Regions from separate parts of the Homo sapiens genome. Here regions 1 and 3 are each linked to region 2. The links come from fine-mapping of genetic effects on plasma protein levels. A gene starts in region 2. Each other region holds a variant in brackets. All regions are shown on one strand. Distances are from middle to middle.

The links. A credible set is the group of variants that fine-mapping cannot tell apart. PIP is the chance, under the fine-mapping model, that this variant and not a neighbour inherited with it causes the effect. Sun 2018 read protein levels with aptamers (SomaScan).
Region 1: its variant is the best candidate, but not a certain one, in a credible set for the plasma level of the FRZB protein (Sun 2018, PIP 0.78).
Region 3: its variant is the best candidate, but not a certain one, in a credible set for the plasma level of the FRZB protein (Sun 2018, PIP 0.57).

Annotation. Positions count from the first base shown.
Region 1 is chr2:182,932,075-182,934,837 of GRCh38, forward strand. NCKAP1 (NCK associated protein 1) reads right to left here. Exons shown (of 31, transcript NM_013436.5): 26 at 2,678-2,758. Among named protein-coding and RNA genes, the nearest start is that of FRZB, 67 kb to the left of the region's middle. The variant A/ATT (reference allele first, on the strand shown) is at 1,315.
Region 2 is chr2:182,865,214-182,867,976 of GRCh38, forward strand. FRZB (frizzled related protein) reads right to left here and starts at 1,424. Exons shown (of 6, transcript NM_001463.4): 1 at 862-1,424. The coding sequence starts at 1,339. RefSeq lists an enhancer at 587-1,555.
Region 3 is chr2:182,927,464-182,930,226 of GRCh38, forward strand. It overlaps NCKAP1 (NCK associated protein 1), which reads right to left. Exons shown (of 31, transcript NM_013436.5): 28 at 1,320-1,436; 29 at 654-763. Among named protein-coding and RNA genes, the nearest start is that of FRZB, 62 kb to the left of the region's middle. The variant T/C (reference allele first, on the strand shown) is at 1,192.

The sequences.
Region 1 (2,763 bases), 67 kb after region 2:
AGGCTAAACATACAGTTTTCATATGACCCTGCAATTCTCTCCTGGTATATATTCAAGAGAAATAATACACGTTCACACATTAAAAACTTGTACACGGATGTTCACAGTAGCAGTGTTTCTAATAGCTAAGAAGTGAAAACAACCCAGATGTCCATCAATTGATGTGAATAAACAAAATGTTGTATACCCATACAATGAAACATTATTCAACAATCATTAAAAAAAGTACTGATATATGCTGTAATATGTATGAATCCTGAAAATATGCCAAGTGAAAGAAGCCAGTATCAGAAGACTACACATGATGATTTATGTAAGTGTCCAAAGTAGGCTAATTTAAACAGAAAGTAGATTAGTCGTTGCCTAGGGCTGGGGATGGGGGAGAAGTGGAATGGGGAGTGACTGCTAATGGGTACAAGGCTTCTTTTTGGGGATGATGAAAATGTTCTAAAACTGACTTTAGTGATGGTTGAACAACTCTGTCACTACACTAAAAACCACTGAATTGTGCATTTTAAATGAGTAAATTTTCTGATAGGTGCGTTATAACTCAATAAAGCTGTTTAAAAACATGTTTTTGTTTTTTGTTGTTTTTTTTTTTAAAAGTTAAGTTCTATTGAAAGTTTGCTGGAAACTAAACATGATTATGTCAGGTGAAAAGTGAATGGTTGCTCAGAATATTAATTAGAATTCTTATAATTCTGCACATCAGTGTCTTCTCAAGAACTGATTAGTTTTTGTCTCCTTAACTTTATTTTTTCTGCAGTGTTTCCACTTAGGAAATCATTTTGAGCTATTTGTACATAGTTTTCAATCATAGAATCACAAGACAATCACTGATCTCAAATGTTTATTCTGCACAAAACACTGTAAGAGAAACAACAGCAACAACACCAAAAAAACAAAGTCTGGGTCTTCAAGATATATACCATTTGGTATAAATATAAGTAGAAAAATAGAATTATAATACAAGGCAGATTATATTCAACTCCACAGGAGATAAACAAGTTCTCTGATAACACTAAGAAAGAAGAAGTTCTTTATCATTGGAGAATCTAGGAATGGTTCTTAGAAAATGGCAATTGAATCAAGCCTTAAAATACAGGCAGGATTTCAAAAGGCAGAAAGAGAAAAGGTTGGTATTTTCAAGTAGAATAAATTAGAAGGTAAAACAGATAGATGTGAGAATGCAACAGAAAGATCTAGTTAGCTCACAGAATACCATATAAAAAGAGGGACAGAGTAAGAAAGAGAGTGAGAGAAGGAAGAAAGAAGTGGCAGAAGATAAGCCTCAAAAAGTTTGAGTGGCACCAC[A/ATT]TTTTTTTTTTTTTTTTTTTGGAGACGGGAGTTTTGCTCCTGTTGCCCAGGCTGGAGTGCAGTGGCGCAATCTCAGCTCACCACAACCTGCACCTCCTGGGTTCAAGAGATTCTCCTGCCTCACCCTCCCGAGTAGCTGGGATTATAGGCATGCACTGTCACGCCTGGCTAATTTTGTATTTTTAGTAGAGATGGGGTTTCTTCATGTTGGTCGGGCTGGTCTCGAACTCCTGACCTCAAGTGATCCACCCACCTTGCTCAGGTGATCTGCCCACCTCGGCCTCCCAAAGTGCTGGGATTAGAGTCTTGAGCCACCATGCCCAGCCTGAGTGGCACCAATTTCAGAAGAGTCTTGGTGTCATACAAAGGAGTTTAGACACTATTTTTTTCAGTCGGTGTTTTTCAAGATATGTGAAACAGAAACAATCTCTCTAAGAAATGTGTCAGCTTAGAAAACACAAATGTAAACCCCGATATATCACTTACTAGATGTATAACCACTGGTCAATCATTACTAGGATTAGATCAATAGTTGGATTTCATGGCTCAATAGATTTTCAAAACAAAAACTGTAAGCTCACAGAAGTCTGCCAACCTGCTGTTTTATATATATATTACATATAATAGAATACTAAAAATCTTTTTAAAATTACAGCCTACAATTACATCCTTTTATAAGAAATGACTTAACATCTATCTTAAACTTATTGAATTTCATTGTATTTAAAACGACTATTATTTCATTGCTTCATCTTTCTTTTTTTTTTGAGACGGAGTCTCATTCTGTTGCCCAGGCTAGAGTGTAGTGGCAAGGTCTCAGCTCGCTACACGCTCCGCCTCCCAGGTTCACACCATTCTCCTGTCTCAGCCTCCCGAGTAGCTGGGACTACAGGCACCCGCCACCACGCCTGGCTAATTTTTTTTTTTTTTTTGTATTTTTAGTAGAGATGGGGTTTCACCGAGTTAGCCAGGATGGTCTTGATCTCCTGACCTCGTGATCTGCCAGCCTCGGCCTCCCAAAGTGCTGGGATTACAGGCGTGAGCCACCGTGCCTGGCCACCTCATCTTTCTTAATTTTCTTTATCACCATGTATAAACAGCTATCCATTTAAGGAAAAAAAAAATCTATTTTTAGTCAATTTTGCATTGCTATAGGTGATCAAAGAAGACTGACTTTCAAAATGCCTAGGTAGTATTTTGGTGCTGAGCTCTCAAAGATTCAATTACAAAGGCAAGCATGCTAACTAACCACTCTAAACTAGAAACCTTACAGTAGTTTAGGATTTATTACATTTTCTTGCATATGTAATTTAAATATTTCGCTTTAGAGACTGTAAACCCCAACTATAAATTATATTATTACCTTCATATCAGTTTCCCTTGGAATGTGATCCTTAAAATCTTCAATTGAACTTACAAGAAAAGGAATGTGGTAGGATAAGACCTAGG
Region 2 (2,763 bases):
TGAGAGTGGAATAAGGGGTGAGATTTAAAATAACATTACGTGAGTGTATGATAACACGCCTTAAATATAACTCCTTTCATCTGTATGCCACTTATAAAATGACTTGAAGGCATGTGGGCATGTGAAAAGAGCTCAGTAATTTCAGTCTGCCAGCTCTATGGCAAGCCACAGAAGCTAATTAACAGTGCATAGCAATGTTTCACAATTGTTTCATTCTGGAATGGAAGAACAATTTATCTCATTGAAAGGAGGGGGAAATTTAAGGTGAAGGTAATTGCTCAAACTGGATCTTGAGCAAACACATACCCCTAACATCTGTCGGTTAGAGTAAGGTTATTGAAATTATCTTGGCATTTTTAATTAGAAGAAAATGGGGCTTCAGTTTTCTGTTTCCTCCACACAATCTTAACAAGCATCTAAGACACTAAAGATACAGAAACCTGATGACTGAGATTGCCTGAGAATCAGCAAAGAAAACCCAATGATTATAAACACATTTTAAAAGAAAAAGAGCATCACTTTACAAAATGTGGCTACTTGCACATGTAAGGAGTTGAAGTGAAGGATTCCTGTGGAGTAGAAGTGTGATGGGTTTGGAATGCATGGATTGTTTTAGAAAGATCGCCTATTGGAACACAGTGCCAGAGTGCATCAGTTTGGAAGGTGATAAGGTGAGGGTTTTTTTGTTTTTGTTTTTGAAAAAAGAAGAAAGAAGAAGAAGGGTCTTTGATAGAGGAGCAGTTATGGGAGAGATTAAGTGATCCGAAGAGAAAAAAATTAGAGAGTAAAGGCTAGTAACAAGGACTCCAAGAATTGAGGAGGCTGTAGGGTAAGGGAAGGGTGGGCCGTGTCAAAACTCACCAGCTCCGTCCGCAGTAACGATGGCCTCGGGAGAGATGCACACGCCCCTGTCGTACACTGGCAGCTCCTCGCAGGCCAGGTTCTCCGGCCACGAGTGGCGGTACTTGATGAGTATGGGCTCACAGCCCTGCCGGGCCCGCTCGCACACAGACTTACAGGGCTTGATGGGCTCGTGCTGGAAGTCAATGGTGCAGATGGGCGCGTACATGGCACAGAGGAAGAAGAGCAGATCGGGGCTGCAGTGGGTGCCCAGCAGACCTTCGAACTGCTCGATGGCCAGGATGGCGTTGGCCTGAGTGCTGTGGTGCAGGTGGTTGGGCATCTTAGTCATGTTCCAGGGCAGGGACTTGCACAGGGGGATGCGGACGGGCTCACAGGCTGCAGCCCGAGCCCCGGGCACCCGGAGCAGGCAGAGAGCAGCCAGGGCAAGCAGCCCGGCCCGCAGCAGCAGCATCCCTCCCGGGCTGCCGCAGACCATGATCCCGGCAGGATGGGGCAGGGTGCAGCCGCGCAGTGGACGCCAAAAGGCCCGCTCCGCCGTCTCCGCCTCCCCCGCTGCAAGTGGACACAAGGATCTGGGAGCTTCTCCTCCCCCGGCAATCACCGCTTCCTTGGATCAAATTCCCCCAATGGGGTCCCACGAGCTTTACCGAGCTCCAGCCACCGCCCCTGCCGCCCAGGCTGCTCTTTCCCAACGTCTAAGCCTTCGGAAGCAGCAACATCTATTTATTCCTCTCCCTCTGGCAGAAGCATCAGACTTCGCAGATCAGTCAGATAAGAGGGACACGAGAGGAGGCGAGGAAGACATAAAAACAAAAGTAGAATTCAGCTGAGAGCTAGTTGGAGCTCTGGGGTGTCTCCTCCCCTAGATCACGCACACAAAAAGATGCTAAAGAAAGCATTAAATTCCCCAAAGTGAGGAGGACAGAGGGGTTGGGGGGAAGGAGGGAGGAAAAGCTCCTAATGGGAGAGAAGGGTGCAGTAAGAGTTTACAAGTCCTGTGTGGGCTAAGAGCTGCGGCCGCCGCTGCGGCTGCGACCCTGGCTGGCAGGAGGGACGCTCAGGAGGAGCCCCGCAGGGACGTCTGTGCCTCTGCCCGGGCGGCTCTGCACTTTCCTACCTCCCGCCTGAGAGGGAGCTCCGCCCCTGGGGCAGTCTCTGCCCTCCAGTGCCGGCTGCTCTTCCCGAGAATGGAGTGGGCGCCCGGGGAAGAGAAGGCCTGGGAGTCGCAGGCGGTGGGGTGCGAAGCCGTGCGAGTGCGAGACCCCAAGACAGCGCCGAGTCGAGCGCGCCCTCACACTAGGGAACCCGTCTTTGGCCCCAGAAACGAGCCCCTAGCCCCTCACTGAAGAGCCCACCCCAATTCCCTACGGAAAAGTCCCCCTAGTTCCCCACTTGGGAACCCACCCGAGACCCTCCTTCCTGGAGGTATTTCCTTTAAGCAAACTACAGCTTTTCCTCTGCAATCACTGGCTCTGCAGAAAGTCAGACCTGGTGGGGGGAAAGGCTTAAGCAATGTCACTTTGTCCAAGTAGCGGAAAACACAGACCCCTGCGAGCAACGGTGGAGCCATATCAACCCAGAGCTAGTGACTACAGAGGTCTCCATTTTCAATAACTGCGGGGGAGGAGGTGGGGGGAGGATTGCCTTTAAAAAAAAAAAAAAAGAGAGAGAGAAACAAAGAAATGCTGTTCATGACTACAAATAGGCCACCAGAAGCAAGGAAAAGGGGTTTTTTCCTTCTATTCCCGCCCCCCCCACCTAGTGGAATTAGAACTCTTGAGCTTTGCTCCTTAAGGGTTAACGTGGAAACTAACAGCTCTAATACACTTGGACTTTTTTTTTCTGATTTTGCTCACGGATAACATGGCAGATATTATTTGTTATTCTCAGCAACAATTC
Region 3 (2,763 bases), 62 kb after region 2:
GAAAAAGAAGTAAATGTTCTAGAGTTCAGTATGCCATGGTATATCTTTCGTTTAAATAAAATATGGAAAAGGTTATATTAATAAAGAAAAGAAAGAACTACATTGATAGAGAAACTAAAAACCATGTTTCATGAGGCTACATTTAGCACTCCTCTCTCTTGGTAGTGAGTAGTATTTTTAATGATGAATTTTTCACCATTAATTGTCTTTCTCCAAAGAAATGGAAAAAAGTAAAATATGTCTTTTTAGAGGGAATAGCTTCTCTCTTGGCCTCAATTTTCCTTTGCTTTTTTTCTCTTTCAAGCCTAGGAAAATTTCTAGGGCAGTCCAAACATCAGCTTGGGGAAAAAAGGTCATATTGCAGAGCTCTAGAGTTGGGAAAGAGACTTCCGAGTCTAAGGGAAATAACGGACGGCTCCTCGATTTTAATGCCCCACCTTCACCTGTTTCTCCCTCCAAAAAAGAAAATAAACAAATAAAAATAAAAGGAGACTGAAATTCATATACCTGAGAAAATAATTTGAAAACAAAATGCCATTAGAGGACACTAAATAAAATGTAAAAATAAAGAGAATTTATTCTTACATTTTGTGGTTGTGAATTTTAGTTTTCTTTATAAAATGTGATGAGTTTTGTTATTTGATTATACATACCGCCAGAAATTCTTTAAGACGGTCTTCAATGCTTCCTTTGTGAATTGTAAACAAAGCTGCAGCAATCTGGTTGATGGCTTTGGCCAAGCAATGTATGTTGTTGCAATGCCCTGAGAAAATGCAAATAGGGTTGTGTAGACCCCAAAATAGCAAATAATACATAGAAGGCAAATCTTTAATGACTTCACAATCTGCATAAATAGGGGCATAATTAAGAGTAGAGTTGGGACATGACCGGACTTGCTCTCCTTTGACTTTCATGAACACTGATGTTTTTAAAACTAGTTTAACAGGAGAGTAACAAACGATCGTGTATATGTTAAACAGGCAAACACTTCTGAAAACATCTAAAAGAAATCACACATCAGTTTTATAGTAGCTCGGAAATAAAAAGGAAGTGCTTAGCTGCTTTACAACATTTTACCATTCAATCCTTAAAATAATCCTATGAGTTGGATAATCCCTCACCGACCTCTACACACATTCAGGCACACATGAGCTTACTTACACACATTTCATATATCAGGAAACTGCAGTT[T/C]AGGAAAAGGGAAACAGACTACCCCATGTTCCACTGCCAGTTAGTGGCAGAACTTAACTCATATTTTATTATAAAATACCAAAACCCATGATTTATTCATCGCCAAAACAATTTTAAACCACTATTACCTTCTATAGCAGGGCTGTACTGAGACATCACATTACTGGCCAGTGTTGGCAAAGAAACTGCCACAAACACCATGAGAAGGCAGGCAATTTTATACTCTTCTTCTGGACTAATGTTTTCTAAGAGACAAAAATTAAGAATAAAATCAAGGTATTTCTTCAAGATTAGTTAAGATTTGATAATCTAAACTAAACAGATTTTTATTTTAAAAATGGTTTACTTTTTTTTTTGAAATAGTAAACTATTTTACTAGCATTCTATAGAATTGGTCACAATTTTGTTATAAAAATATAAAGTAGAAACAGTTTATATTACAATGGACTATTATCAACTACTTAGGCATATTTCAAGGACGTCTGATAAAACAGTAAGGTAAGATTTTATTTTTTTTAATTGTAAGATTATAGAACAAAAAATACAGTTAGGATAACTGCAATCCTACAATTTCCTAATTGAAAACTAATGAGGAATTATTACTTTATGAGACAGTTCTATTTACAATTTAGAAAACTTATAAATTATTCTGCAAAATCACCAAAAAAATCTTAATTACTTTTTGAAAGAGATATGAATATAATTTGAAATTTACTATTTAAAAGACATAAATGTGGAAAGTGGAATGGGTTTTCAACCTCTCTATTTTAGAAGACAGAAGAAACTAGTCATGAATAAAAGAAGACAGAAGAAGACAGAAGAAACTAGTCATGAATAAAAATACCCAGCATTGCTCTAAAGCTTTCAAGACATAACCCTTTCTAAAACATTTATTGTGATATGCACTCAAATTGTGGGTTATTTAGGCTACTAATCACCATTAGATATAATTAAGAATTGAATGTAAGAAAAGAGCTGAAATATGTTTTAAAGATTTGGTCGACTACAAAAAATACAGCTGTAGCAAATCAAGTAATAATTATAATTATCCATGTGACTAAATGTAACATACTGTATGAATGAGGAAACAAAATTGCATTGTTAAATGAAAAAAAAAAAAAAACTGATGAACTCAAACACCATGCTGCTGCCTCAAGGAGGCAGAAGGGGCATTTTAGTAGTAGAAAGAGATGAAATGCTATATTTACTTTGTAGACAAATCAAGAAATATCTACAGGATTCTGAGTACTGCATTTCTAAGGGCTGGTCTTAAAAATTTCTAAATGTTTTATATAAAACTCTTGATGGTGAATAACTCTAGTACAATAAAAACAGAATACCCTTTCCTAGATCTCAATTTTTTGCTATCTACTGGACCATCTCCCATTAGCATACAAATGCTGTAATCTCCTCCATCTTAAAAAAATCCTTCTCTTGACTTTGCTCTTGCCTCCAGCTGGTGAGATTTTATTTCTTTGCTTCCCTTTACAATAGAACTCTTTGAGTTGTCTTCTAGTTATCTCCAAATCCTTTCCTCCTGTTCTCCCTTAATCTCCCTTACTCACTACTCAG